2 separate regions of the Homo sapiens genome follow, and region 2 is linked to region 1. The links come from fine-mapping of genetic effects on gene expression. Tissue or cell type: whole blood. Region 1 holds a variant in brackets; the other region holds the start of a gene. All regions are shown on one strand. Distances are between the middles of the regions.

Region 1 (2,754 bases):
AATACCACTTGCAGTCCAGATATTTCTTACTATACCAGAATTCTTGAGTAATACAGAGAACTCATAGCTAATTGTAAATTAAGCCAGTGCCTTGTCATTAAATAATTCTCAGAGCCAGCTGGGCACGGTGGCTCAAGCCTGTAATCCCAGCACTTTGGGAGGCCAAGGCAGGTGGATCACCTGAGGTCGGGAGTCTGCGACCAGCCTGACCAACATGCAGAAACCCCATCTCTACTAAAAAATACAAAATTAGCTGGGTGTGGTGGTGCATGCCTGTAATCCCAGCTACTTGGGAGGCTGAGGCAGGAGAGTCACTTGAACTCGAGAGGCGGAGGTTGCGGTGAGTCGAGATCACGCCATTGCACTCCAGCCTGGGCGACAAGAGTGAAACTCTGCCTCAAAAAAAAATAAATAAATAAATAAATTATTGGAGCCAAGTCATAAAAAGGCTTTCAGCTGTTTATGGTGTTGGATGTGGCAAGTTTATTAGGGGTGGTGGCCATGCCGTGTGGGGATGAGGCTTCCCACACCACCGAGGGCTGGGCCTGGCTGGGCTTCTTACTGACCTGGAGAGCTGCCTACCCTCTCTGGGACTCCGTTTCCCTGTTCAACAAGAAGCTAGCAGTTCCCAGAAGGTGGCATGTGGGTGCCATTCCCTATGCTTTGGAAAGGACATGGGTACAAGAGATGGACAGGGCTGGCCTTCCCCACTTAGAGCCGAGTGTAAGGACAGGGTCTCTCGGAGCCTCAGCTTCCTCTTGTAAAATGGGGATAGTAATTCTCCCTCTCTAGGTTGACGTTCATGCTAGAGACAGTGACTGTGTGACTTTCAAGTCTTAAGACAGCTTCCCAATCTTCTGCCAATTTGGTTCTAATGTCAAGAGTTTAGCCACGGCAATTTTCTTTAAATAGATTCCTTTTTAAGACCTAAGCACTGGTGTTGGCCTATCCTTAACAGTAACGTTGGTGAACTCGAAGCTCTGTGTGCTGGTTAAATTTTTCTCTAAAAGGCACTAGAATGAATAAAAATGCTTGTGTCCCCTCCCCAACCAGCTTCATGGTCTACTAGGGGAATTGGTACTCCCCGCACGGAAATGAGGGATCCCAGGGGAGGTGCTTAGGAAATCTGAGCATCGCTGTGTGTGTGCACGCCAGTGTGTGTGTGTCTAAGTGTGAATGTGTGTGCCTGAGGGTGTGTATAAGGGTGAGTGAGTGTATGTGAATGTGTGTGACAGTGTGTGGGTATGTAGGTGATTGTGGGTGTGTATGTGTGTGACTGTGCAAGTGTGTGAATGTGTGTGAATTGAGTGTATTTGTGTGAGTGTGTGTGAATTGAGTGTGTGGTGAGTGCATGAGAGAGTGAGGGTGTG[AGT/A]GTGTGTGTCAGGATAAGTGTGTGAGTGTGAGAGGGTGTGTGAGTGTATGTGAGTGTGAGAGGATAAGTGTGTGAGGGTGTGTATGAGTGTGTGCATGTGTGTGAGTGTGTTAGGGTGAGTGAGTGTATGTGTGAGTGGGACAGTGTGTGAGAGTGTGTGTGAGGGTGTGTATGAGTGTGTGTGCATATGTGTGTAAGTGTGTGTTAGGGTGAGACTGAGTGTGAGTGGGACAGTGTGTGAGAGTGTGTGTGTGTGAGAGGGTGTGTATGTGAGAGAGACTGTGTGTGTGAGTGTGTGTGTGTGAGAGAGAGAGAGAGTATGGCAGTGGAGGGGTGTAGGGGGAGCAGGGCAGGATTTCCACATGTGAGGGACTTAGGGCAGTGATCTGTTTGGAGTTGGGGAACAGGGGCAGGTTCTTGTCCAAATCTGGATTTGCAGAGCAGACACACTGTTTTTTGAAACCATTTGCTTATTCGGGGCAGCGTGGGGATGGCGGATAGAGACGGTGAGGGCCAGCCTCCCAGGCCACCCTTGCCTCTGATCCCTGCTGGGGTGGAGGGATGCCTGGCCTGGCTGGGCCCCCAGATATTGTCCACTCTTGCTCCCAGGCCAGAGACGATGATTCAGGGAACAATGGCGTCATCCTGTTCTCCATCCTCCGAGTAGACTTCATCTCTAAGGACGGGGCCACCATCCCTTTCCAGGGTGTCTTCTCGATCTTCACCTCCTCCGAGGCCGACGTGTTCGCTGGGAGCATTCAGTAACTGCGGGCGGCCCCGGGAGGGAGGTTGCGGGGAGGGGCCCGATAGGAGCTTTCAGGCAGCAAGTCCCCCATCCTGGAGGTTACAAGGGTCCTGAGGATTCAGCTTGGGTTCCAAGACTGACCTGCGCCTCCCGCCTTCCGCAGGCCGGTGACCAGCCTCGACTCCACTCTCCAAGGCACCTACCAAGTGACAGTCCAGGCCAGGGACAGACCTTCCTTGGGTCCTTTCCTGGAAGCCACCACCACCCTGAATGTGAGTGCTGGTCCCACCTCCAGCCCCCAACGCCCTCTGCCAGCCCCCAGGGTCCCTGGTGCCTCATCTCCTGCACACCCCCTTCCCAGCTCTTCACCGTGGACCAGAGTTACCGCTCGCGGCTGCAGTTCTCCACACCGAAGGAGGAGGTGGGCGCCAACAGACAGGCGATTAATGCGTAGGTCTGGGGAGCCCCGGAGGGAGGGGTAGGAAGAACAGGGTGTAGGAGCCTGGTCCCCGACAAAACCTGGATGGGATGTCTCTCAATCCTGTTCCTGACCCACATTTGACCTTGTCCCTGTCTTCAACCCTGTACTTTCACCTGCACGACGTTCTTGCATGTCCCCAGAAGCCCATACCCAGCC
Region 2 (2,500 bases), 22 kb after region 1:
GCTGCCCATTCAGGCCACAGAGACCTGGCCAGCCATTCCTTTCCCTCTAGGATTTCTTTCCAGCATGGAGCTATCCTTACACCCATAAACAGGGCCAGAACTGCCAAGCACCTGCAAATACCTCTTCTGTGCTGACAAGACCAACAAAGGCTTGAGGGACTTCGTCAGGCATCTGAGTGTGTCTGAGAATCTCAGTCTGCTGCCCCTCGTCCCCTTCTCTCGTAGTGCCCTCAGAGCAGCGAAGTCTCCTGCTCGGGGGTGTGGGGGGAGAAGGAATCTAAAGGTGTTAGCCAGACCTGCTTCCAGAAACGGCCCTCAGACCATGCATACATACATACATAGGAGGGCAAGAATGGACGTTCATGGACGTGCAAACGTGGGCCAGTGTGGGTGGGAGTGGGCAGCACGCTAAGAGACAGAGTGTGTGTGTAAGAGGGAGTGTGTGCACAAGGGTGGCAGTCTACTCCAGGGTATCTGGGTACGCAAGGGACCCCATGAGCAGGGGTGAGCAGGCCAGGGCAGGGTGGCCCCGAGTGTGTTGTGATCAGGGAGTATTGTTGAGTTGATGTCCATGCTGTGATCCGCGATGGCTGGTTTGAGTGCGTAGCTGTGCCTGGGTGTGTACGCAAGGCTCCCACCCAGTACCCTGGGTGACAGGTGGCCGTGTGTATGAGTCTAATGGAATGACCAACAGCCATTGTGTGTGTGCGGTAGACCTGTGGCCTCACTCGAGGAAATGAGGCGCCCGTGCGTGAACGCGGTGTTGTGTGATCGCGCCCCGGAGTGTGTGCCACACTGGTTGTGTGACGGCGAGTGTGCTCAGTAGTGCGAGTGGAGCCAGTGGAGCGTTGAGCTCGCTCCGGGGAAGATGAATCAACGCGGGAGGACGCCCTCCCCCCAGTGGCGGGAAGCACCCCCTCCCGCGCGGCCATGCCGAACAAAGCCAGCGGGCGGCGGCAAGGCCGGGCGCGGGGCCGACCCCACAGCCAGGTCAGCCTGGCCCGCCGGGCCCCTCTGATGTTCGGCCCAGGGCTGCGGGACCCGCCCCCGCCCCGCCCCGCCCCGCCCCGCCCCGGCGAGGAGCCTGGAAACAGACACCCACCGCCCCCAGCCGCGCGCACACACCCGGGCTCATGCCGCGCGAGGTGTCCGAGCCCCGCCGCCGGGGGGCTTCGAGGACCCTGGACAGCGGCTCCGGGGCGGCAGCGAGCGGATGAAGGGGCTGCCGCCGCCCGCCCGGAAAGACAGCGGGTGTGGGCGCGGCGCTTACCAGGCAGTGCCGCTGCTCCGGCTCCTGGGCGAGATGCGCTCCGGCTCCCGCCGCCGCCGCCGCCGCCGCCCGAGCGGCCTCGGCTGCCTCCGGCCGGGCTGGCGGGAGGACCCGCAGACTCGGCGCCGCCGTCCCCAGCGCCGGCTCCGCGCTCCCGCCCCGCGCCCCGCCCCGGGCATGCGCAGTAGCCGCCCGGCCGCCTCGGAACCGCGAGGGGGCGGTGACCGCGGGGAAACCGCGGCCGGAGGGAGCGAGGGAGGGGCGCCCCTCGCTGGCCAACCCTAACTGCGGCCGCTGGGCTCCCGGGTTCCGCGCCGTCCTCGAGCGGGTTCCCACTTCACAGACAGGGAGACTGAGGGCCGGAGAGGCTGCCCCTTTGCTGCGAGCTTGCTGAGGGCGGGGCGCGCCGTCTAGCAGATCTTAGACCAGCCCCTCGAAAGCCCTCGCCTGGCTTGACCAAGGAGGGAACTGGGGCTCAGAGGGGGCAGTCGCCGGCCTGAGGACTCGAGGCGCCTGGATGGGGACCCAGGTCGGCGCGATCTCCCGGCTCCGCCAGCGAGGAAATTTCCCGCCTCCGCCCCCCCCACCCCCGGCCGCACTTCCGGCCTCCTCTTCCCCGCCCCCGGCCCTTTGTCTCGCCGCTGCCCACGCTCCAGCGAGTGGCGGGGACGCCGGAGGTAGTGGTGCGGGAGAGATGCCTTCCAGTCCCTGGCTGCGGCCTCCCCGGGGGCCCGCCCGCCCTCCCCCCTCCCCCTGGATACCCTCGAGCAAATCATTTCACCTCTCTGCACTTCAGTTTCTCGATCTGTAAAACGGGACTAACATTATGCACCTCACGGTGGTCTTGGAAGGGCAAAGTAGGTGTTCAGGGGTTTCCAGTGGTATCTGAATCACCAAGGACACAGAGACTCGCTGCCCACCCCCTCCACATTTCCCTGCAGAGAAGGAGTTCCCTTCCCCTTGACTTCCCAGAGGAGAAAAAATAATTCCGTAATTGCTCTAGATGTGACAAAACCCTCTCGCACCGGTACTATGAAGCCACCACCATCTATTAATCAATGGTAACAACCATTGGCAATGATGCTTATGTAGGGCCAGACACGGCGCTAAGATTCTGTTTACAGGTTTTATCTAATTTCAATTTCCAATCGCTTAGGAGCAAGTTAATATTAATGTATTATATCTCCATTTTTCAGATAAGAAAAGAGAAGCAGATAAGTAACTTGTTTG

What was found. PIP is the estimated chance that this variant, and not a neighbour inherited with it, causes the effect.
Region 2: it holds the start of GPRIN1, and the variant in region 1 is fine-mapped to the expression of GPRIN1 in whole blood (INTERVAL, PIP 0.93).

Annotation. Positions count from the first base shown.
Region 1 is chr5:176,587,050-176,589,803 of GRCh38, forward strand. It overlaps CDHR2 (cadherin related family member 2), which reads left to right. Exons shown (of 32, transcript NM_017675.6): 22 at 1,982-2,133; 23 at 2,281-2,389; 24 at 2,479-2,567. Among named protein-coding and RNA genes, the nearest start is that of GPRIN1, 22 kb to the right of the region's middle. The variant AGT/A (reference allele first, on the strand shown) is at 1,371.
Region 2 is chr5:176,608,729-176,611,228 of GRCh38, forward strand. GPRIN1 (G protein regulated inducer of neurite outgrowth 1) reads right to left here and starts at 1,428. Exons shown (of 2, transcript NM_052899.3): 1 at 1,271-1,428. RefSeq lists silencers at 1,009-1,068, 1,129-1,758.